Regions from separate parts of the Homo sapiens genome. Here regions 1, 2, 3 and 4 are each linked to region 5. Evidence: fine-mapped expression QTL. A gene starts in region 5. Each other region holds a variant in brackets. All regions are shown on one strand. Distances are from middle to middle.

Evidence for each region. PIP is the estimated chance that this variant, and not a neighbour inherited with it, causes the effect.
Region 1: its variant is the best candidate, but not a certain one, in a credible set for the expression of ERGIC2 in whole blood (INTERVAL, PIP 0.62).
Region 2: its variant is the best candidate, but not a certain one, in a credible set for the expression of ERGIC2 in whole blood (INTERVAL, PIP 0.53).
Region 3: its variant is the best candidate, but not a certain one, in a credible set for the expression of ERGIC2 in whole blood (INTERVAL, PIP 0.51).
Region 4: its variant is the best candidate, but not a certain one, in a credible set for the expression of ERGIC2 in whole blood (INTERVAL, PIP 0.61).

The regions. Positions count from the first base shown.
Region 1 is chr12:29,307,701-29,312,806 of GRCh38, reverse strand. It overlaps FAR2 (fatty acyl-CoA reductase 2), which reads right to left. Exons shown (of 12, transcript NM_001271783.2): 5 at 4,972-5,106; 6 at 3,577-3,621; 7 at 1,661-1,779; 8 at 857-924. It overlaps FAR2-AS1 (FAR2 antisense RNA 1), which reads left to right. Exons shown (of 7, transcript NR_103860.1): 2 at 2,904-3,036; 3 at 4,763-4,957. Among named protein-coding and RNA genes, the nearest start is that of FAR2-AS1, 7.6 kb to the left of the region's middle. The variant G/A (reference allele first, on the strand shown) is at 2,996.
Region 2 is chr12:28,914,302-28,919,407 of GRCh38, reverse strand. No RefSeq gene overlaps it. Among named protein-coding and RNA genes, the nearest start is that of FAR2, 230 kb to the left of the region's middle. The variant G/A (reference allele first, on the strand shown) is at 3,059.
Region 3 is chr12:29,286,742-29,291,847 of GRCh38, reverse strand. The region is part of intron 2 of FAR2 (fatty acyl-CoA reductase 2); the gene reads right to left. All of the region lies in intron 5 of FAR2-AS1 (FAR2 antisense RNA 1), which reads left to right. Among named protein-coding and RNA genes, the nearest start is that of FAR2-AS1, 29 kb to the left of the region's middle. The variant T/A (reference allele first, on the strand shown) is at 2,449.
Region 4 is chr12:29,170,108-29,175,213 of GRCh38, reverse strand. The region is part of intron 1 of FAR2 (fatty acyl-CoA reductase 2); the gene reads right to left. Among named protein-coding and RNA genes, the nearest start is that of FAR2, 23 kb to the right of the region's middle. The variant G/A (reference allele first, on the strand shown) is at 2,974.
Region 5 is chr12:29,378,722-29,383,827 of GRCh38, reverse strand. ERGIC2 (ERGIC and golgi 2) reads left to right here and starts at 2,656. Exons shown (of 14, transcript NM_016570.3): 1 at 2,656-2,713. RefSeq lists an enhancer at 2,924-3,093.

The DNA.
Region 1 (5,106 bases), 71 kb after region 5:
AGTGTTACCTATGTAACAGGGAAAGAAAGTGTGCATTAGTAGGTAGTAAGAAATCCTACAGAATAGCCAAACTCCCTACTTTAACTTTCTACCATCATTAGATGTTTAAGTTGTACTCAACTCTATTTCCATGGTTTTATACATTGAACAGATCCAATCCTTTACATTCAGACAGATCAATCATTTGTATAGTACAGGGTTTCTCTGTTTCACCAAGCATCAAGAATCATCTAGATGCTTATTAAACATATAGTTTCCTCAGCACCACCCAAGACCTTGGTCCCAGGGTTCAAGGAATCTGGGTGTTGTTTTTATTTCTCCCATAGTGCTTCCTATTCACTTTTACAAATCGCTAGTGGAGTGGTTATTGCACACCTGAGAGGCAAGCTGCATAAATTAATGATCAGTATGATGGACTCAATAACAAAGGATTAATATCACCTAACTTTTCTATCTCATTGGTCATTGATGATGTCGCATTCTCAGTGACATATCAAGAAGGGAAGGGGTGTGTGTAGGAGCCATTGCTCCAACAGGGAGGAGTATTTCAGTATTTTATCACTGACATTCTTTATAACTGCCAACTTTTGCTTTGTTTCATCATTTTTAAAATCGCTATAGCCAATGGACCCCTTACTGCTTACAATCTTGTACATGTTGCCACTGACTCCTTTCTTTGGTAACCACAGTACATTCTAGTTAACTATCACACATTTACAATTTCTCATTATTTTGTCTCTTTACTTACTTTTTGTCTTTCTCCCCATATAAGCTCTAAGCTCCATGACACACTTTGTCAACTTTTTCTCTGTGCCAGACACTAGTAATTATAGAGTTACATAGCTAAAGTACTTACCCATTTTGTGCCAATTGCAGGGATTCATGTTACCAGATGTAATGTGGTAGACTAATGTTGACTTAGGTCTGGAAAATGAAATAAAAATTAGATAAGTACAACAAAATAGAAAACTAATGAGAGAAAAATAAGGAAAAATAATATTTAGACAGAGTGGTTTCAGTAATTCATCTGATTAAGGCAACCTATGAAAGGCTTCCATCGTTCATTCTTTCTCTGGGTTAATAAGCAAAATGGAAGAAGACTAGGAAAAGCATGTGTGTGTGTGTGTGTGTGTGTGTGTGAAAGAGATGTTAAATAGGAGTGACATATTATGGAGTACATATATGTGAGTTCACATAAGAAAAATTTAATTTACTAACAGACCCAAATATATGAACAACCTATTTTTTTTCCTTTGTACCAGGAAGCTTCCCCACACATCGTGACTGAACTTTTGGCATTTACCAGAGTTCAATTAAAAAAAAATTCTGTCATTTCATCAGCTTCTATCTCCTTTGCCCTAAAAGAGAAAGCTGAATTTTAGACTACTGAATAGAAAGAAAAGCCTTTTGGTTATCAAGAATTTTATGGTTAAGTGATTTAAAGGTTTTATTACTTTATGAGTAGCCAAGTACTAAACTGTATTTATAAAACAACTCAATGCATATATGATGGCATATTAGGAACTCTATAAAATATTGAAATACGCACTTTCACACATTTGGGGTCTTGTACAATGAAATGCCTATATTTGGAAAATGGGCCTAATATATTCACTCTGCCCCTCATGAAGTCTTTGAAAGCCCACTTGAGCATCCACACCTGTGAACTGCAGTATACCATCCTACAGCTAGCATGAGATTGACGACTGTATCAACTGGAATTACGTCTGCCACAGCCATTGGAGTAGCTTTTATGGCCCGAAGAAACCCTTTCCCAGTCTGCATAGGAAAAAGAACATAAAATATTAAACCAGGTCTTAAATAATAGCTGGGGCTAAAGTATGTATCATCAAACTGGTTATACTAGTGCAATAAGTGAAAACAGCTAACATTGATCCACTGCTTACCAGGTTCTTATGCTAAGTCTGACTTCCTCAGCCTATCCTACCTTCCCAGCCAAGTGCATGCGTCTCCAGCATTTTCATGAACTACTAGTGTTCCTCACGTTCCTTTAGGGAATAAAATTCCTCAAATTTGTGAGAGGTTAATAAACTCAATTAACAAACACCAAGAATAAACTTTTACATCTTAAAAATTAATTCATAAGACATGTTAAGAATTAAGGTTATACAAATTTCCCATTAATTTTCCCATTAATATTTGTTTACCATTTCCTTGATGATTTTGTTTTCTGCTAGGGTTTATTAACTTACAAGCAATAGTAGGCACTAAAAGTTTAAGAAATACTTATTTGAAAAACATTAATTGGTGAAATTCCACCATTAATAAAAGAAAACTTTTTTTTTGGCTTGGAAAAATTGCCTTATTATTTACTTTTTATTCAGTATCTTAGTTCACCTCACAGATCACTGATGTTATATAGATGCAAGAATTAGGAATTATTCATGTTAATAATTGGTTGAGTTTATGAAATTGATTCTTTGTGCTTTGCATGTTTCCAACATTGATTTGCAACGATTAGCACTTTCTTATGTTACTCAGTTCTGTTTTCTTATAACTAGCTCCCCTTCTTTTGGACATAAGAAACCAATTTAGAACATTTTAGAAAATGTAAATAAATATGTAGCTTTGCATGTAATGAAAGCCGTTTTGGGATCACGTTAAAATAATGATGTTCTAAGTCACTAAACGTTCACCCCAACTGAACTTTTGTAGAAGAAAGAGTTGAAGGCAGGTGGGAAGCAGAAAGAAAGGGGCTGCTAGAAAAATCAGAAATCGGAAGGAAGATCTTTGTCACTGTTATAATTCACTGTCTCATATCTGTATTGCAATTCATGTTGAACCTAGTTCTGGGAGGAACAGAGTCAGAGTCTGAATCGCAGTCTAAATCCCTAATAAAATTTAAACTCATTTAGATCACTGATTTCCTATTCATTGTACAGAAGAATGAAGTGGGGTTTAGACCCTAAATGCTTCAGTGTGAGCTGTGAAGCCCCACAGCTTGGCTGGATCAATCTGGACTTCGGGCAGATGC[G/A]CACTAAGGGCTGCTTACCTAGAGGAGCCACGTTTCTCCTGGTAAGATATTATTGAAAAGATGTTGCCTATATTCATGGATTTTTGTATTTGAAAAATTTGCTCCAATTGGTAGTTCTCTTTCTTGTATTCATTAAAAATTATTGATGTATATCTCTTTTCTACACACGCACATAAACTCTTACATGTGTTTTATAATCAAGAATTTAATAATCTTTGAAGATATTTTTACTGCATCCTCAATTCACTGCACTAATTCATGAGATTATAAACTGCAAAAAGGAGGAAATACCCCCATCTTGTGGTAACTAAAGAAAAGTCCTTGATGCTCAAAGACTTCAAAAATAAAACTCCTAAATAGTAACTGATAGCACATTACCTCTGTTTTTCTGATAAAAAATTCTCAAAGAATAATTTCATCCTGCCTGTATATTACAATCAGAACAATTAAAATAATATGCCTCAGTTATTAGTAAAGTAACATTTATGTTTTTGGATCAATGAAGCTAAGCCAGCACTAAGAATTTTGTTACTATTTCTCTACTACATTTCAGGGAGTTATTTCTTCATCATTATACATACCGCAATAATGATTCCATTAGGTCCATTTATATTATCAACCCAACCCTAAAAGAAAGAAGATTTCTATTGGTTACACATTTCAGAAAATTGTTTTATCTTTGGAACATCTGCAGTCTAATCTTAATAAATTTCAAACAAGAGCACTGAGATCCCAGCCAATAGAACTATCTAATTCAGTATTATTAAGATCTCAAAAGATAATGGCAAAGCATTGGCCATTTTCTGTACTTTATTTGACTGTGCAAAAATTAGAATTTTGCCAGGATTGTTTTTCTTAGCAGGAATCATGAATGGTTTTGTGGTGTTTTATGACCTCTTATGGACTAAATTGGACCTTGTCCTTATATCATGATCTGCTAAGCAATTCACCAACCATACTTCTCCACCTTAGTCCTGATTTCAGCCTCCTTAGGAGAACATTGAAAACATGATTTGTGTTAATGGCCCATTTCTTAACATTTTTTACCAGCTATAGAGTCCATGCCAGATATATATACATATATATATATATGTGTGTGTGTGTGTGTGTGTGTGTGTGTGTCTGTGTGTCTGTGTGTATATTGACTTACTTAAAGATGTTACAGAGATTATATTTAAGAGCAGCTAGAGGGAAATGTGTTTTTAAGTTTGTTTCTTAAGACCTAAGCCATTCAGCTGACCTTATTATGTCTCTTTACGTTACAGTATAAAAGTCAAATGTGTGAGTATAACAGGAGAGGAGAGAGAAGAGAGGAGAAGATGAAGGGATTAATATTTGTTGAGCCTTTTAGTAGGGACCACTCCTCATACATTGTCTCATCAAATCAACTCTCCATAGTATCTGTCCTGTTTTATGGAAGGGACAACTCAAAAATGTTGCATTACCAGTAAGTAGTGGAGCTGGAATTTATCTACCCCAAAGCTTCACAGACTTGCTTTCAAGAAGATGGTATAATTCAAAGTACTTTCAAAAGGTCATGACAGTATACTGAGGTTTAAAAAAAATTAGTATTCCTAAACTGAGATCCTTCTGTGAGCTTTGAAACTCTTGTTTACCCTGGCAGTTGTAATACTACCAATTTGGCCATCAAGGACATTCTGGTATGCTTAAACTATAGTAGGAAAGCCAAGATATGAAACCATCACCCATGTGAATTTTGAGACTAGAGTAGTTAGAAGCTAATTTAAGCTCTCCGTCCAACTCTAGGGCAGTCAAGATAACTGCCAGAGGAGCCACATGCTGGGTAAATCCTGAACCCAAAGTGGAATTTTGCCCTAGTATAATGGGTTCATATTCGATTGGCTGCACTTAGCTATAAATCCTGAGGAGGAGAAGAAGAAAGACATCAGAAAGTAATTGGACTAGAAGAACCTTAGTTTGGAAGCAAAACACAGAATCCAGGTAAGTGGGCTTACTGGGAAAGGCTCCTGCCAAGTTGCTCCCACAATGGAGGGCCTTATGATGGCAATGTTCAGGTTCCTGCTCTCTTGCTGCACCACCATTTCTCCCAAGGCCTTGGTGTAGGTATAAATATTGGGCCAATCTCTGAT
Region 2 (5,106 bases), 460 kb after region 5:
CTTGCCTAATTTCTCTTGCTAGAACTTCCAGTACTACCTTGAATAGGAATTTTGAGAGTGGGATTATTGTCCAGGTCCAGTTCTCAAGGGGAATGCTTTCAGCTTTTGCCCATTCAGTATAATGTTGGTTGTGGTTTGTCACAGATGGCTCTAATTATTTTGGGGTATTTTCTTTGTATGCTGAATTTGGTGAGGATTTTTATTATTAAGGTATGTTGGCTTTTATCTAAAGCTTTTCTGTATCTATTGAGATGATGATGTAGTTTTTGTTTTTGATTCTGTTTATTTGGTGAGTCACATATTGATTTGCATATATTGAACCAAATTTGCATCCCAGGAATAAAACCTACTTGATTGTGATGAATTAACTTTTTGATCTGCTGCTGGATATAGTTTGCTAGTATTTTGTTGAAGGATTTTTTTATGTCTGTGTTCATCAGAGATATTGGCCTGTAATTTTCTTTTTTGTATCTTTGCCAGATTTTGGTATCAGAGTGATGCTGGCTTCATACAATGAGTTAGGGAGGGGTCCTTTCTCCTCAATTTTTTAGGTTTCAGTAGGATTGGTACCAGCTCCTCTTTGCAGATATGGTAGAATTGGGCTATGAATCCATCTGATCTAGGGCTTTTTTGGTTGGTGTTTTTATTTATTTATTTATTTATTTATTTATTTATTGAGATGGAACCTCACTTTGTCACCCAGAATGGAGTAGAGTGGCATCATCTTGGCTCACTGCAACCTCCACCTCCTGGGTTCAAGTGATTCTCCTGCCTCAGCCTCCTGAGTAGTTGGGATTACAGGAATGCACCACCATGGCTGGCTAATTTTTAGTATTTTTAGTAGAGATAGAGTTTCACCTTATTGACCAGGTTAGTCTCGAACTCCTGACCTCGTGATCCACCCATCTCAGCCTTCTGAAGTGCTGGGATTACAGGCATGAGCCACAACAAGCAGCCGTTGGTATGTTTTTTATGACTGATTCAATTTTGGAGCTAATTAATGATTTATTCATGATTTCAATTTCTTCCTTTCTCAATCTTGAAAGATTCTGTGTTTCCAGGAAATTATTCATTTCCTCTAGATTTTCTAGTTTGTATGCATAGAGGTATTCATAATAGTCTCTGGGGATATTTTGTATTTCTGTGAGGTCAGTTGTAACATCGCCCTTGTCATTTCTGATTGTGCTTATTTGGATCTTCTCTCTTTATTTGTTCATCTAGTTAGCGATATATTAACCTATTTTATCCTTTAAAAGAACCAACTTTAGGTTCCGTTGATCATTTGTATGAATTTTGGGGTTCGAATTTTTTTCATTTCTGCTCTAATTTTAGGTATTTCTTCTCTTCTATTATGTTTGGGGTTAGTTTTTCTTGTTCTAGTTCCCCTAGGTGTTATATTAGATTGTTAATTTGATATCTTTCTAACTTTTGATTTAGGTAATTAGTACTATAAGCTTTCCTCTTAACACTGTTTTTTTTTTCTGCATCCCAGAGATGTTAGTATATTGTATCTCCGTTTTCATTTATTTCGAACATTTTTCAAATTTCTGCCTTAATTTCGTTGTTTACCCAAAAGTCATCCAGGAGCAAGTTGTTTAATTTCCATGTAATTGTGTGGTTTTTACAGATCATCTTGGTATTGGTCTTTGTTATTATTCTACTGTGGTCTGAGTGTATGCTTGGTATAATTTCGATTTTTTTGAACGTATTGAGACTTGCTTTATGGCTGAGCATGTGGTCAATCTTACAGATTGTTCCATTCGTAGATGAAAATAATGTATATTCTATGGTTGTTGGGTGGATTACTCTGTAGATATTTAGTTTAATTTTTCTGCTACAACAATCTATCTTATGCTGTCAGATGGGTATTGAAGTCCCCCACCAATATTGTGTGGCTGTCTAAACCTTTTCATAGGTCTAGATACTTGTTTTATTAATCTGAGTGCTCCATTGTTGGGTGCATATACATGTGGGATATTTATGTCTTCTTGTTGAATTGAACACTTTATCATTATGTAATTTCCCTTCTTTACCCGTTTTTACTGTTGTTGGTTTAAAGTATTTTTTTCCCCGATATAAGAATAGCAACCTCTGCTCGTTTTTGTTTTTTGTTTTCACATGTTACAACACCCATAGTGTCAAAGTAAAGTCTCCCCTTACTTTGAGGATATGGGTGTTGTAACGTGTGAGATAGGTCTCTTGAAGACAGCAGAGGATTGGGTCTCATTTATTCATTCAATTTGCCACTCCGTGTCTTTTAATTGGGGTGTTTAGACCATTTACCCTCAAGGTTAATATTGATATGTAAGGTTTTGCTCCTGACATGATGTTGTTAGCTGGTTGCTTTGTAATCCTGAATGTGTAGTTGCTTTATAGGGTCTATGAGTTGTGTATTCAAGTATGTTTTTGTGGTAGTAGGTATTGTTCGTTTTCATGTTAGAACTTTCTTAAGAATCTCTCATAAGGCTGATCTCATGGTAATAAATTCTCTTATTGTTTGCTTGTATGGAAAAGATTTATTACTCTTTAACTTATGAAGCTTAGTTTGGGATAATATGAAAATTCTTTATTGGAATTTCTTTTATTTAAAGACGCTGAAAGTAGGCCCCCAGTCTCTTCTGTCTTGTAGTGTTTCTGCTAAGACTGCTATTAGCCTGATGGGGTTCCCTTTGCCCTTTATAAGTAATATGACTGTTTTCTTTAGTTGCCTTTAAGGTTTTTTTCTTTCATGTTGACCTTGGAAAGTCTGAGGACTTTGTTTCTTGGGGCAGTCATCTTGTATAGTACAAGGATTCTCTGAATTCCTTCAATTTTCTTGTCAACCTCTCTAGTGATATTGGGGCAACTTTTGTGGACTATATTCTCAAGTATGTTTTCCAATTTGCTTACTCTCTCTTCTTCTTTCTTAGGAATGCCAATGGGCACAGGTTCGGTCTCTTTATATAATCCCACATTTCTCTAAAGTTTTGCTCATTAAAAACTTTGTTTTCAATACTTTTGTCTGACTGAGTGACTGGAAGGACCAATCTTCGAGCTCTGAAATTCTTTCTGCAGCTTG[G/A]TCTAGTCTGCTGCTATGACTTCTAACTATTTTGAAATTCCTGTAGTAAATTTTTTCATTCCAGAAGTTCAGTTTGGGTTTTCCTAAAATGACTATTCCATCTTACAGCTATTGGATTGTTTTACTGGCTTCATTGAATTCATTGATTTCAACTTTTTCTTGAATCTTGTTGAACTTTCTTGTCATCTAGATTCTGAATTCTATGTCTGTCATTTCAGACATTTCAATCTGCTTAAGATCCATTTTTTTTTTGGAAACTAGTGTGATCCTTGGGAGGTAAGGAAACTCTGTCTTTTTGAATTGCTGCAGTTCTTCTGCTAATTCCTTTTCATCTCAGAGGGCTGGTGTTTCTTTATCTTTTTGAAGTTGCTGCCATTTGGATGAAGCTTTTTGTTTTCATTTTATTTTATCCCTTGAGCGTTTGACTATGGTGTATACTGTAGATAGTCACTTGGCTTTGTTTCTGGGTGCTTTGAGAGAACCAAGTCTCTGTAGTTTCCTTAATTGTGGTTAGTTTCCTGCACTGGTTTTCACATGTGATAAGTGCTGAATGAATTTATTTCTGTTTGGTGGTGTCATTCAGGCTGCAATCCAGTAGATGGTGATTAAGAGTAAGAGCCAACAGATAAGCTTTTACTCAGTTGCACACCTCTTTTGTATTTTATTTTGTTTGCAACAATACCATGTGGAGGGGAGATGGGGAGGCAAGAGACAACTCCCTCACCAATCTGTTCCCAGGTGGGCTTTGTGGGACATCCCTGTAATCACTGGTGTTGCACCCACATTTTCTTAGCCCCAAGAGGTGCCCTTGAAGACTGCACTCTCCTTTCTCTTATGGCTGGCCCAAGCCAATGTTCAGGTCACCAGGAGACCCACAATACCCAAGGACCTGCTGGTCCTCTGTGCTTGGCAGAGTTGAAGCATGTTGCGGGGTGTGTCTGCAGATAGTCTGGTGATAGAGTGGGTCAAGAGTAGAGGATTCCCTGGGCAGAGTGGTGGCGCTGCAGGTGTGCAGCTAGTGTGGCAACTGTGGCCCAGCTTTTTTTCTCTCAGTAGATGGCTGTGGGAACTGCCCAGCTTATACTCCCACACTAAGTCTGCCTCCAGTGTCTGCCCTGGGAGCAGGTCTAACCAGCTAGTTTTGTCCCAAACCTTCTGCTCCCAGATCACTGGGCTGTTTCTCGTGTTGTGAGCCATGAGGCTCCCTCAGGCAGAAGCTGCAGCTGGCAACAGGCTACACTCTTTCTGGACCAGACTTGCAGAGGTATGGATGCCTAGCTTCTGCACTGGTATATGAACCCATGCCTCACTCTTCCTCATGTTCTAAGATGGGGGTTGCTGTCCTGATCTATCTCAAACCACAGATCTCAGCTCAATTCCCTTAGGCAGTGTGCTCAGCTCCTATGAGGTTGGGACCAGGTCTGCATCTTTGTTCTTTGGCGCCTTGGGGTTAAGCATTGCCTATGCTGGAGGAGTCAAACTGCTCCCAGGCTGTTGGTAAATTAATTAGGCAGGTCAGTGGAGGCTGTGCTGTGTGCACCCTCTTGCAGGAGCAGCCAGGCAAGGGCCTTGGGAGGAGCTGACAAACGAGGGGGAATGCAGATCAGATTTTCCCCCATCCTGTGGGAAAGGCATCCCTGCCAGGAAGTTAGCAGAGGCTAGAGTCACTCAGAGCAAGATGGAGAGCCTCGGGGGATGGGTTCCTATGATTGTGTTTCACTGTACCTGCCTCACATGTTAAATCTTCTGGGCTCTGTGGGAGTTGAAGTTCTGCCTCTGCCTACTCTCTGGGCAGTTCCCCTTGCCAATTCAAATGTGTATGGTGGTTGTAGGATTTGTGATATTCAGGATTCCAGAGATCCATATCAGGAGCGTTGTGCCCTGGAGTTTCTTCACTCACCCTTAGGACTTGTTTAAGACTGAGAGCCAGTCCTCGCACTCAGTCACTCTGTATAGGCTTCCCAGCTTCCTCCCTCTTTAACTTTGGTGTCTGTGTTGTCTCTTACTGCCTTTCAGTGTTTTTCTCAAAAGATCTGTTCAAAGTGTGG
Region 3 (5,106 bases), 92 kb after region 5:
AGCCTTGCTTAATAATAGGACTTGCCCTGTCAGGAATCTCACCATACCCCTATAGCTTCTAAAATAATACTCTTTAATAGTGCCATGTCCTGAATAGAGTGACAGAGATGGCAGCCAACTGGAATCCAACAGGTCAGTGGTTTTGGTCTTTTCATAACGCTGTCCACAAAGTGAACTGCATTGGAATCACTAGTAGCATAATTAAAATGTATATTCCTGGGTCCTATCCCATACCCACTAAATAAGAAATTACTAGGGCACACCCAGGAATCTGTATTTCACACCAAGTCCCCCAATTGATTTTAAGGCATGCAAATGATGAGAATTTCTCCATTTAGAGTGCAAACACGGACCATTGCAGATGAATAACTGCATACAACTCATTTCCCTTTATAACTGCCCAGAGCAATCTTCGCATCAGTAGCTTTCAAACTGTAGGCATGAAAAATCAAAGAACCTGGTTAAAAATTATTTCTTTATTCCACCCTCAGAGACCCTGGCTCAGTAGTTTTGTGTGTAACCTAGGAAATTGTATTTCTTAACCGCCTCTGCAGGTGGATCTGATGGTCCAGGTACCATAATTGGGAAACACTGACTCTGAAAAATTCATGTCTGTTCTTAAATTCAGGGCTTATATTTCCCCCTCTAGTTTGTAAACTCCTTGATTCTTTTTTTCTTTTGTAGGGAAACTCTTTCTATTTTTCTTTAATTTCTGTGGGTACATAGTAGGTATATATATTTATGGGGTACATGAGATGTTTTTATACAGGTATGCTATATGAAATAAGCACATCATGGAGAAGGGGTATCTATCCCTTCAAGCATTTATCCTTTGAGTTACAAGCAATCCAATTATACTCTTTAAATTATTTTAAAATGTACCATTATTATTGACTATAGTCACCCTATTGTGCTATCAAATAGTAGGTCTTATTAATTCTTCTATTGTTTGCCACCCTTTACCATTCCCATCCACCCCCTCCCACTTGCCTTCCCAGCCTCTGGTAACCATCCTTCTACTCTTTATGTCCATGAGTTCAATTGTTTTGATTTTTGTACCTGACAAATAAGTGAAAACATGCAATGTTTGTCTTTCTGTGCCTGGTTCATTTCACTTAGCATAATGACCTCCATTTCCATCCATGTTGTTGCAAATGACTGAATCCCATTCTTTTTGATGGCTGAGTAGTACTCCATTGTGTATATGTACCACATTTTCTTTATCCATTCATCTATTGATGGACACTTAGGTGGCTTCCAAATCTTAGCTAGTGTGAGCAGTACTGCAACAAATATGGGAGTGCAGATACCTCTTTGAGATACTGATTTCCTTTTTGTTGGGTATATACCTTGCAGTGGGACTGCTGGATCATATGGTATTTCTTTCTTTTTTTTTTTTTCTCAGACAGAGTCTCACTCTGTCACCCAGGCTGGAGTGCAGTGGCACAATCTTGGCTCACTACAACCTTCACCTTCTGAGTTCAAGTGATTCTCTTGCCTCAGCCTCCTGAGTAGCTGGGATTACAAGTATGCACCACCATGTCTGGCCAATTTTTGTATTTTTAGTAGAGATGGGGTTTCGCTACGTTGGCCAGGCTGATCTTGAACTCCCGACCTCCAGTGATCCACCCGTCTCAGCCTCCCAAAGTGCTGGGATTACAGGCATGAGCCACCACACCTGGCCCATATGGTATTTCTATTGTTTTTTGAGGAACATGCAAACTGTTCTCCGTAGTGGTTGTACTAATTTACATTCCTACCAACAGCATATGAGGGTTCCTTTTGCTCCACATCATTGACAACATTTTTTATTGCCTATCTTTTGGATATAAGCCATTTTAACTGGGGTGAAATAATATCTCATTGTAGTTTTGATTTGCATGTCTAATGATCAGTGATGTTGAGCACCTTTTTATATGCCTGTTTGTCTTTTGTATGTCTTCTTTTGAGAAATGGTTATTCAAATATTTTGCTCATTTTTTGATCGGATTATTATACTTTTTACTGTATAGTTGTTTGAGCTCCTTATGTATTCTGGTTATTAATCCTTTATCAGATAGGTTGTTTGCAAATATTTTCCCCCATTCTGTGGCTTGTCTCTTCACTTTGTTGATTGTATCCTTTGCTGTGTAGAAGCTTTTTAACTTGATGTGATCCCATTTGTCCATTCTTGCTTTGGTTGCCTGTGCTTGTGGGGTATTGCTCAATAAATTTTTGCCCAGACCAACGTCCTGGAGATTTTCCCAAATGTTTTCTTGTAGTAGTTTCATAGTTTGAAGTCTTAGATCTAAGTCTTTAATCCATTTTGATTTGATTTTTGTATATGGAGAGAGATAGAGGTCTAGTTTCATTCTGCTGTATCTGGATATCGTTTTCCCAACACCATTTATTGAAGAGGCTGTCTTTTCTGCAGTGTATATTCTTGGCACCTTTGTCAAAAGAGTTCAC[T/A]GTAGGTGTGTGGATTTTTTTCTGAGTTCTCTATTCTGTTCTATTGGTCTGTGTGTCTGTTTTTATGCTGGTACCATGCTATTTTGGTTACCATAGCTTTGTAGTATAATTTGAAGTCAAGTAATGTGATTCCTCCAGTTTTATTCTTTTTTGCTCAGGTTAGCTTTGGCTATTCTCAGTCTTTTGCGGTTCCAAATAAATTTTAGGATTGTTTTTTTCTATTTCTATGAATAATGTTACTGATATTTTGATAAGGATTGCACTGAATCTGTACACTGCTTTGGATGGTAGTATGGACATTTTAACAATATTGATTCTTCTAATCCATGAACATGGAATACTTTTCTAGTTTTTGGTGTCCTCTTCAATTTCATTCATCAGTGTTTTATAGTTTTCATTATAGAGATCTTTCACTTCTCTGGTCAAGTTAATTCCTAGGTATTTAATTTTATGTGTGGCTATTTTAAAGGCTTTTTAAAAAATTTCTTTGTAAACTCCTTGATTCTTATTCATCTCTTTATGCCTGACAGTATGCCATTCATTGAAAAGACTCAAATTTTGCTTATTGAATTAAAATTAATTCCTGTAAGATCAGTAATAGAACTATTACTACAATAGAATGGAAGCCTGATTCCTGAAGTTTGTATGACTGTGATGAGAGATAGCAGATAGCGACTGCTAAACGAGGACACAAGTGTTTCCTGAGTCCTCTATATTAACTGCCAGTGGGAGCTTGAAGTAATGTAATTTCTCCAGTCTTTATAGCAGACCTTCTATTTTTATAATAATGACAAGACTGAAGGGACAAGATGAAATGGTGCAAATGGAACCTGGATAAGCACCAGCTCTTCTAAAAAAAATTTTCTTTTTGGTGTGTTTGTTGCTAATGTGAGAGATTAAAGTAAGAAAAATAGATGAAATCAAAATGAGTAAAGAAAAAACAGAATTTCAGAAATTTCATTGAAAGCCCACCAATAAAGAACAATATAATTATTTTAAATTCTAAGAGCTTATCCTGTTTCTTCTCATTGCATAAACTCATATTCTCTACTTGATGGCACAAGACTGAGAGGTAAATAGTTGGAAAGCTGCTCACCATCATCAAAACTCAAGCAGAGGGATTGCTGTTGATCCATTTTAGGAAACCTTGTTCTTTACAAGAGTAGGACACATTTCTGTGGTCACTGAAAGATACAGCTGAAAGGTGATCTAAGCATTTCAGATTGGAAACTTTGGGAGTGTTCCATTGACTTGCCATTACACAGGCAAGTATTTCTCTCCTTAATTTGTTTTTAAACATAAGATACTCTTCTAATTATATGAATAGTTACTTGTAGCCCAGAGGCAACAGAGAAACTGCAAACTCTTAAGTAAGAAAATTCAGCAGAAAGAGAAAACCAGAAAAAAAAATTTGTCTGGTTTAAATAAACTCCTTGGGTATGACTTCTGTAGTCAGACATCAAGACTGCATTTTTATTAGAAGTAGGAATTGGGGTGGGGGCATTACATTTATATAATGCTTTTGAAACAATCCAGAGGCCTTTAACATGGTCTCTTACAATGAACTAGTTAGCCACATGACCTCATTTTGTAAGTATCCACAGGAGATTTGCCCTCTACTTCCTGGGGCTCATTGAAGGTAATCTAATCTTTTCTAATCATGAGAATCTTTGATCTTTAATCATTTTACTACGTCTTTCTCTTCAAAAAGTCTTTCTCTTCAAAAATAACTACATTATGTAGTCCCAATAACCCACCAAAATTTGCTTAATTTTTTTTGGAAAATAAATGAGTAAGGTTGCTTAAACTAAGGGGCAATCTCTGTGGAATATTTGGTGTCCCAAGGTGAAAGAGACACTGTAATTTTTTTTAGAGAATTTTTAGAGTGCTGAGTAAAAACAAATCAATGAATTCTGCAAATTAGCTTTAAGTTGAAAACAAACACAAATAAGTTCGTTAATTTAAGCAAAAACCATTATACCCAATGTACAGATTAACAAAAATTCACAAAATGTTAAAATTGTTGCTAGTTCACTAGTAACTCTCATAAGATGTAAAGGATTAATCTAGACGTTTTTAGTGCTTTAGCGAAGACCGTTTCTATAACTCCATAAGGCAGCATGGTGTAGTAGTATGGCTGTCAACTTTCGGCATATAGCAGGGTTGCCCAGGAAGTTGCTCAAACAAACAAACCTATGTCCTGACCCTGAAGATTCTCATTCAACAGTTATTAGTCCAAGCTTGGGCATCTATCTTTTCTTTGAACATGGTCTCTAGTAATTCTGATATACCCTGAAGTTGAGAACCATTGGTGTATTGGAAAGAGCTCAGGCCCTTAGGAGTCATGAAATATTATATTTGAATTCTGATTCTGCCATTGATTTGCTATGTGACTGGGGGAAGTTACTTACCTCTCTGGGTCATTGTGTTTTTGCATATTTATCTAAAATGCCAACCACCTGACTATCGTATTCTGTGACCTCAGAGAATTAAGCATATATTATGCTGTTCTTAAAGACAATTTTGCATTTAAAATCGTATTCTGTGACCTCAGAGAATTAAGCATATATTTTGCTGTTCTTAAAGACAATTTTGCACTTAAAATCGTATTCTGTGACCTCAGAGATTTAAGCATATATTATGCTATTCTTAAAGACA
Region 4 (5,106 bases), 210 kb after region 5:
TGACCCAGATGGGGCAATCAGCTATCGCCAAGTGGGGAGTACCATCGGATCCCTTTCACTTGCTATTCTGTCCTACTTTTCCTTAGAATTTGGGGGCTAAATACTGGGCACCTGTCAGCCAGTTGAAAGTGACTAGTGCAGCTGCCAGACTAAAGACATGAGTGTCAGGCTTTCTGGGAAAGGGCTCTCTAACAACCCCCAACTCTTTGGAGTTGGAAGCGTTGGTTTGCCTGGAACCAGGTTCCACATCTCCTGTACTTCTGGGCTGAGCCGAGGGTCACCAGAGAGGAAAGCCATTCAGCTTCGGGGTCCCAACAACAAGTTGGTTGACCTTGTGGCCATGAGTGGAACTCTCAAAGTCACATCGCCCAAGTGAGACTTGCCCTTCTATCCTATCTATCCTGACCCTTGCCTCCTGGGTCCTAACGCCTGTCAGACAAACTTCTTCTCGCCTCTCTTCTCCGAGGCTAGTTCCACTTCTAAAAGCCACTCCTGGCCGGGTGCGTTGGCTCATGCCTGTAATCCCAGCACTTTGAGAGGCCAAGGTGGGTGGATCATGAGGTCAGGAGATCGAGACCATCCTGGCTAACACAGTGAAACCTTGTCTCTACTAAAAATACAAAAAATTAGCCGGGCGTGGTGGTGGGCCCCTGTAGTGCCAGCTACTTGGGAGGCTGAGACAGGAGAATGGCATGAACTGGGGAGGCCGAGATTGTGCCACTGCACTCTAGCCTGGGTGACACAGCAAGACTCCATCTCACAAAAAAAAAAAAAAAAAAAAAAAAAAAAAGAATAAAAACCACTCCCTGTCTCTGGTGCTTTTCCAGTTTCTCCTATAAGAATAATTTCTAGTATAAACTCCAGGACTCCATTCCCTTCTTTAGGCACCCGGGCTCATCAATCAGAAAGACATATTTTTTGCCCAAAGCCCCATCGTGGTGGGGGAGGGGCAGACTATCTTCTCTGAAATGTTAGGATCCCTCCTCAGACTAGCAGGCCTAACAAAAGCTATTCCTGAAGCTAGGATATGGGGAGCTTCAGAAATGATATCCTTCCTATTCAGGTGAGGACAAAAGGCATCACTCCTCCAACCCTGGAGATCACTTCCCTCCCTCGGGGTATGGCCCTCCACTTCATTTTTGGGGCATAACATCTTTACAGGACAGGGGTAAAGTCCCAATACTAACAGGAGAATGCTTAGGACTCCAACAGGTTTTCGAGAATGTGTCAGTAAGGGCCACTAAATCTGACCTTCCTCAGTCCTCTTTGTGGTCTAAGAGGACAGGCAAGGGTGCAGGTTTTTGAGAATGTGTTAGTAAGGGCCACTAAATCCAACCTTCCTCAGTCCTCCTTGTGGTCTAGGAGGAAAACTAGTGTTTCTGCTGCTGCGTAGGTGAGTGCAACTATTCTGATCAGCAGGGTCTAGGGACTGTCGCGGGTTCTTGGGTAGGGGGGGTGTGGGGAAACAAACAAACCAAAACTGCGGACGGTTTTGTCTTTCAGGTGGGAAACACTCAGGTATCAACCGGCTTACCCTTGAAATGCATCCTAAGCTATTGGGACCAATTTGACCCGCAAACCCTGAAAAAGAGGCAACACATTTTTTTCTGCACTATGGCCTGGCCCCAGTATTCTCTCTCTGATGGAGAAAAATGGTCACCTGAGGGAAGTATAAATTACAATACTATCCTGCAGCTTGATCTTTTCTGTAAGAGGGAAGGTAAATGGAGTGAAATACCTTATGTCCAAGCTTTCCTTTCATTGAAGGAGAATCCACAACTATGCAAAGCTTGCAATTTACATCCCACTAGACGACCTCTCAGCTTATCCCCATATCCTAGCCTCCCTATTGCTCCCCTTCCTATTAATGATAAGCCTCCTCTAATCTCCCCTGGCCAGAAGGAAACAAGCAAGGAAATCTCCAAAGGACCACAAAAACCCCCGGGCTATCGGTTATGTTCCCTTCAAGCTGTAGGGGAAGGGGAATTTGGCCCAACCCGGGTACACGTCCCCTTCTCCCTCTCTGATATAAAGCAGATCAAAGCAGACCCATGGAAGTTTTCAGATGATCCTGATAGGTACACAGATGTCCTACAGGATCTAGGGCAAACCTTTGACCTCACTTGGAGAGAAGTCATGCTACTGTTAGATCAAAACCTGGCCTTTAGTTAAAAGAATGCAGCTTTAGCTGCAGCCTGAGAGTTTGGAGATACCTGGTATCTTAGTCAAGTAAATGATAGAATGACAGCCAAAGAAAGGGACAAATTCCCTACCAGTCAGCAAGCCATCCCCAGTATGGAGCCCCACTGGGACCTCAACTCAGATCATGGGGACTGGAGTCAAAAACATCTGTTGACCTGTGTTCTAGAAGGACTAAGAATTAGGAAAAAGTCCGTGAATTATTAAATGATGTCCACCGTAACTCAGGGAAAGGAAGAAAATCCTTCTGCCTTCCTCGAGCGGCTACGGGAGGCCTTAAGAAAATATACTCCCCTGTCACCTGACTCACTCAAGGGTCAATTGGTCCTAAAAGATAAGTTTATTACCCAATCAGCTGCATATATCAGGAGAAAGCTCCAAAAGTGAGCCCTGGGTCCTGAACAAAATCTGGAGGCATTATTAAACCTGGCAACCTCAGCGTTCTATAATAGGGACCAGGGGAACAGGCCGAAAAGGAAAAGCGAGATCAGAGGAAGGCTGCAGCCTTAGTCATGGCCCTCAGACAAACAAACCTCAGTGGTTCAGAGAGGACAGAAAATGGAGCAGGCCAATCACCGGGTAGGGCTTGTTATCAGTGTGGTTTGCAAGGACACTTTATTTTTTTTTTAAACTTTTAATTAAAAAGTAAACTTTAATGTCGAAAATGCAAACTTGGGGAAGACAGAAAAGATCACACACAAGGCTGTCACTTAACACTTGGAAGGTTGCACAGTGGCTGGGCAGAGGTGCTCCTCACTTCCCAGATGGGGCAGC[G/A]ACCAGGCAGAGACACTTCTCACTTCCCAGACGGTGGGGCGGCCGGGCAGAGGCACTCCTCCCTTCTCAGACAGTTGGTGGCCGGGCAGAGGGCATTCCTCACATCCCAGATGGTTGGTGGCCAGGCAGAGGCGCTCCTCACTTCCCAGACAGTTGGTGGCTGGGCAGAGGCGCTCCTCACTTCCCAGACAGTTGGTGGCCGGGCAGAGGTGCTCCTCACTTCCCAGATGAGGCAGCGGCCAGACAGAGGCGCTCCTCACTTCCCAGACTGGGCGGCAGCCAGGCAGAGGTGCTCCTTACTTCCCAGATGGTTGGCGGCCGGGCAGAGGCACTCCTCACTTACCAGTCAGTTGGGCGGCAGGGCAGAGACGCTCCTCACTTCCCAGATGGGGTGGCGGCCAGGCAGAGACACTCTTCACTTACTAGACAGGGCAGCGGCCGGGCAGAGGTGCTCCTCAGTTCCCAGACAGTGGGCAGCTGGGCAGAGGCACTTCTCACTTCCTGGATGGTGGGCAGTCAGTCCGAGGTGCTCCTCACATGCCAGATGGGGCAGCAGCTGGGCAGAGGCCCTCATCACTTCCCACATGGTTGGCGGCCAGGCAGAGGTGCTCCTCACTTCACAGGCGGTTGGCAGGCCGGCAAAGGCACTCCTCACTTGCCAGATGGGGCGGCAGCTGGGCAGAGGCACTCCTCACATCCCAGACAGTGGGCAGCTGGGCAGAGGCGCTCCACACTTCCCAGATGGTTGGGCAGCCGGGCAGAGGCGCTCCTCACATCCCAGATGGGGTGGCAGCTGGGCAGAGGTGCTCCTCACTTCCCAGATGGGGCAGCAGCCGGGCAGAGGCACTCCTCATGCAAGGACACTTTAAAAAAGATTGTCCTATGAGAAACAAGCTGCCCCCTCGCCCATGTCCACTATGCCGAGGCAATCACTGGACAGCACACTGCCCCAGAGGACAAAGGTTCTCTGGGCCAGAAGCCCCCAACCAGATGATCCAACAACAGGACTGAGGGTGCCTGGGGCAAGCACCAGCTCATTGATGGCCAGGAAATTGACTTCCTCCTGGACACTGGCATGGCTTTCTCATTGTTAATCTCCTGTCCTGGACAGCTGTCCTCAAGGTCTGTTACCATCTGAGGAATCCTGGAACAGCCTGTAATCAGGTATTTCTTCCACCTCCTCAGTTGTCACTGGGAGACTTCGCTACAGATAGTAAGTATGCTTATCTAATCCCACATGCCCATACTGCAATATGGAAAGAAAGGGAGTTCCTAACCTCTGGGGGAACCCCCATTAAATACCACAAGGAAATCATGGAGTTGTTGCACGCAGTGCAAAAACCCAAGGAGGTGGCAGTCTTACACTGTCGAAGCCATCGAAAAGGGGAAGGTGAGGGGAGAACAGCAGCATAAGCGGCTAGCAGAGGCAGGGAAAGACCAGCAGAAAGGAAAGAGAGAAAGAGAAAGTCAGAGAGAGAGAGAGAGAGAGAGGAAGAGACAGAGACAAAGAGGAGTCAGAGAGACAGAGAAAGAGACAGAAAGTCAAAGAGAGAGAGGAAGAGACAGAGAAAAAGAGGGAGTCAGAGAGAGAGAGAAAGAGAGAGACAGAAAGTCAAAGAGAGAAAGGAAGAAACAGACAAAGAGGGAGTCAGAAAGAGAGAGACAAAGAAGAAAAAGAAAAAGAAAGAGAGATGAAAATACTAAAGAAAACACAGTGTATCCTATTCCTTTAAAAGCCAGGGTAAATTTAAAACCTATAATTGATAATTGAAGGTCTTCTCCGTGGTACTCCAGTACCACCTTGTTGTCAGTGTAAACAAGGGCATAGCCCGAAAGCACTGAGGCCACTGACAACCCATAGCCTTCCTAACAAAAATCCTTAACCCAGCAGGTTTCCTAACAGGGGATCTAAATCTTAATTACCATACAAAGGTCTGACCAGACCAAGGAGGAACTCCCTTCAGGACAGGAGATAGATGTTTCCTCCCAGGCGATTAAGGGAAAAAGACACAATGGGTATTCAGTAAATGATAAGGAAACTCTTGCAGAAGCAGGGTTAGGAAAATTGCCTAACAACTGGTCTGCTCAAACGTGCCAGCTGTTTGCACTCAGCCAAACCTTAAAGTACTTACA
Region 5 (5,106 bases):
TGGAGTGAAATACCTCATGTCCAAGCTTTATTTTCATTGAGGGAGAATACACAACTATGCAAAGCTTACAATTTATATCCCACAGGAGGATCTCTCAGCTTATCCCCATATCCTAGCCTCCCTATAGCTCCCCTTCCTATTAATGATAATCCTCCTCTAATCTCCCCTGGCCAGAAGGAAACAAGCAAGGAAATCTCCAAAGGACCACAAAAAACCCCGGGCTATTGGTTATGTCCCCTTCAAGCTATAGCGGGAGGGGTATTTGGCCCAACCCGGGTACATGTCCCCTTCTCCCTCTCTGATTTAAAGCAGATCAAGGCAGACCTGGGGAAGTTTTCAGATGATCCTGATAGGTACACAGATGTCCTACAGGGTCTAGGCAAACCTTTGACCTCACTTGGAGAGATGTCATGCTACTGTTAGATCAAACCCTGGCGTTTAATGAAAAGAATGCGGCTTTAGCTGCAGCCCAAGAGTTTGGAGATACCTGGTATCTTAGTCAAGTAAATGACAGAATGACAGCCGAAGAAAGGGACAAATTCCCGACTGGTCAGCAAGCCATCCCCAGTATGGATCCCCACTGGGACCTTGACTCAGATCATGGGGACTGAAGTCATAAACATCTGTTGACCTGTGTTCTAGAAGGACTAAGGAGAATTAGAAAAAAGCCCATGAATTATTCAATCGAACTAGAGAAAGAAAAAAATGGCACAAAAACACCTTTTGATCATCTTTACTAAATACAGGTTGTTATGGAACAATTATTAATCTCAGTCTAAAACCTATCTTATGCGGGTAATACATAATGGACTTTTTAAAGCAAATTGTTTTTCAGACATAACGCCACTGATAACACAAGATTAAGTATCTATCTCTTTTTAAAGATGATCCTGATAGGTACATAGATGTCCTACAGGGTCTAGGGCAAACCTTTGACCTCGCTTGCAGAGATGTCGTGCTACTGTTAGATCAAACCCTGGCCTTTAATGAAAAGAATGCGGCTTTAGCTGCAGCCCGAGAGTTTCAATCTTCAGGGGAAATTAAGTTCCCTCTTCACTGGGTAGATTAGAAAATGGTGAGTTGTTTTCTAAATAAGAAGGATCAAATTAGTCAGTTTTGCTACACTGGGAAATCCAACTCTCATGGGATAGTTGTTACCCTGAAAGTAGGTTATCCAGGAGATGAGGGATCAGATGTAACTAAGTGAACAACAGCCAGCCTCCATCCAAGCAAGAGCCCATATTCACAAAGAAGGAAGAGTTGCTGATGCCTTTACGGCAAAGATTAAAAAAAGGCATTTTAGATGTATATTAATTTACTTAATCCTCGTAACAACTCTGAGATATTATCATGCCCATTTTACAGATGAGCAAATGGAGACACAAAGAGATGAAATAATGTGGTCAAGGTTACATGCTAGTAAGTTGCTGATCTGGAATTCTAACCCAGGAAGTCCTGTCTCCAGTGTCTATGATTTCACCCACTACACTATACTTCTTAAGCATGTCAAGAAAGTGAGAACTTTAAATTGATTTAATTAGACTAACTCTGAAAGTCTGAAAATAAAATTGATTCATTGGAAACTTTTCATCAGTCCTTATTTTGGGGGATATTCAATTTAGTGAAATTTAGTATTTCAGTAAAGGTTAATTCACTACATAAAACAATGTGATTTTTTTCCTTTGAGGCACAGTTTAGTATTGTGATCAAGATTTCCCTGACTCTCCCAGCGGTCTGAATTTGGGTAAATCACTTCACTACCCCTTGACTCAAATTCCGTATTTATAAAACAGGTAAATACTGGTATTATCTTCTAAGAGTGTTGTGAGGATACGCAGATTTTTTAAAAAAGCAGTTAAAGCCTTTAAACAGTAATTATAAGCAGTTGTCATAATTATGCCGTTGTTAGACTTCTAGGTCAATGAATCAGAAAATTTAAATCTCAATGTTTGATTATAAAATCTGGTAACAGATGGGTGAAAAGGAACCTGGAATGGGTTTACTCTCCAGGAGTTCACATTTAACTTTTCTTTCCGAAGTTCCGTCTATTAACTCCTGTTCTATGAAGTGGTAGAAAAAGATGAGGTATTAATTTTCTTTCTTAACAAATATTTGAAGGCATAGTTGGTGTTGGCGAAGGGAGATGAGGAAGACATATGTGCTTTCTTATGATATTAAAACCTGGAAGACAATAAAAACGCTGATCAAATAATAAAAAGCGTTACCTATGGCGGAAAAGGAAGCTCAAATGTTCTTGTCAGGGGAAAACGACACAAAAACTGAAAGAGGGAAACAAAACAATTGCACAGGTGATATGCATTAGGGTTGTTAGGGATAATTTCTGCGCCCAAGGCTCTTATTAGTAATGAAATACGGTGTGAGGAGCTGAGATTCGTTCTGCAGTCTCAGTGTTAGTCGGAAAGTAACCCCTCCCTTCCCATAGAAACAGAACCGGACTGGCGGCGCGATTACACCTAAAACAAGTTGCAACCTCATTTCCCTGTAGGCACGCCTCTTTTATCTTAACCACGCCTCTTCATTCCCTAAGCACGTCGTAAGCAAAGGGAATATCGCGAGATCTGTACATTGTCTCTTTTCTGACGTTTTCAGCTGTGATAGTCGCTTTTGTTCTCGCGATATTTCCGGGTACGCGGGAGCCCCGGCGACCCGGGCTTCTGTGAAACATGGCGGTAGGCTGGGACCATAACACAAGGTAAAATACTGAAACACCGCTGGGTGCTGTTCCCTCGGTTGTTCCAGGGCTGTTTAGGGCGTAAATGCAATTGAGGGAACTGGGAGCCTGTCATGGGCTTGGCTTCCTGTCTTCATTGATCTCTAGAGAGCCGGTCGGACGGAGAAGCCGCTCCACCTCCCACGGGGGCGTTACTGGCAGGACCCTAGGCAACGATGCTACTGGGAGCTTCCCTTTGCCAGGTCCGGGTGCTTGTGTGCTATCCTGCAACTCGAAGGAGTTCAGGTGCTTCCTCGATCGCACCTGATTCTGACCCTTTGCTTGTCACAGTGCCCGGTTCCCAGGTGGTTTCTCCAGTCCGCAGGCGAGTAGGATCCCAATCGGTCGAGTCCCAGTCCTCCCGGATGTCAGACTCCCTACCCCCATTCAGACAAATGCCACATTCGTGGCAGCACGTTGCCCTCTGTCTCTTTAAGAGTCTTGGCCTTGCCCGGAAGGAGTTTCGCACAGTGCTTCGGAAAATGAGAAGGGGGCGGGGGAGGGCGAGATGCTGAGAGACAGGTTCGACTGTCACTACTTTTCCTCGGCGCAGGAAACCTTCCGAAGGCAACGTGTCAACTCGTGGTGGAGAATAGCCTTGTTTATCTGTAGTATATAGAGTTGACAGGTCATTGTTTGAGAAAACACGTTTAAATAACTTTTATATTTTAGTGCCCCCGAGACTTAAAGACAAAGTGGCATAATAGCTGTTAAAATGTTGCCAGACTGGTTTTCAGAAGCAATGAAAGTTACAGTTAAAAACAGGATTTATTCATTTGAAGTTGTAATTCAGTATTTCAGTTAATTGCCTAGCCTGATACATTGGACTCCAGTATACAGCAATTATAAAGAATGAGCCTGGCTTGTTCACTGAAAAAAGACATGGTTATTTACCTAATTTGTTTGTTGATATCTTTAAGTTGTTGTAATTATGCCAGTTCTAGTGGAAAACATGAGGAAAAAAATTCTGATTTTTTGGGAGGGTGGGGGTTGGCGGTGCAGGGATGGATAGAGAGAGGAGGATTTTTTTTTTTTTTTTAAATGATGGTGAACTTTAGTATACAGTTGCGTGTTATAATGGCTTCCTGGTACAAATCATAAAAATATATCAAGTTTGAAAGATCTCTCAAAGGAAATCAGGCCTAGTCTGGAACAACGAGAGTTAGGGAAACAACAACAACCACCCACACATTTTCTTTCTTTGGGGATTGATGATTTAAGTGAAAGAAATGGCTATTTTTTTTTTCTTTACCAGAAGTTACTTTTAGGCAGTCAGTGCCTGCTAAAAATCCTATTTAATAGTTTCCCAATATTTATTGTAATTCTGCCTCTTAATGTCATAGTGGTCAAATTATTTAACCTCTCTGTGCCTTAGTTCCTTCATCGGCCAAATGAAATAATGATACTTAACTCATAGGAAGGTTGTGAGGATTGAATGTGTTGAAACATACAAAGCATTTAGAACAATACCTGGCACACAGTAAACACTCAATGCATGTTAGCTCTTGTTATTTTTTATTTTCATTTTCTAACATCTGTAGTTACAAATGTTGCCTTGTTACTTAGTCAAAATGTAGACTGAAGAAGATATTGTTTAAAATAATATCTTTCTGAACTCCAGATTGATTAAACACTCTGATTGGTGTGGTTAATGTGTCCTTAAACTCCCATTATCCAGTTGCTTGTTTTCTTAAATTATTATCCTCTTTTAATGACTAAAGCATAAGTTCTTCCTTTCTATTGCTCTATATAGTCACGTTGTAGTGTGGCTCAGATCTACCCTCTGAGTGCCTTATTAACCCCCATACTCTTTGCTTTTGAGAACATTCATTCTATTGTAAATATATTTCATGTGTCCCTGACCTTTTCCTTAATACTTTTTAACTTTAATTTTCTATACTTTTATTGAGAGCTACTATAGTCTAGTTGTTCTTTGAGGAGGATTATACTTGTCCTTGCTTCACATTGCTACTAGGCACTTTTAAGGTTATTCTGTTATCACTCTATAGTCTCTCTTAACTTTTAGTCTTATCAGTTTATGCCATCCTAACTTCAGGAGATTGTCAACTAACCTCACATACTCTCCCACTTTCCTCAAAGACTTTAACAACTAAATCTCAAATATCCTACAAATCTTTGCTTTTTTTCAGAGAATTAGAAATAGATATTACATGCCTCATTTTTATCTTAACACTGTGAGGTAGCCATTATGTCCTGCTGCCCATCTTTTAAAATAAAATTATGGAGAGAGGATTCTAAGAAGTTGAGTATCTTTCCACACTTGTCACACAACTAGTAAGTGCCTAGGTAATCAGGGTTTTCTGATTATAAACTCACATTTATATTGTCTTCCTTGGCTTCCAAGTAAACCTTTC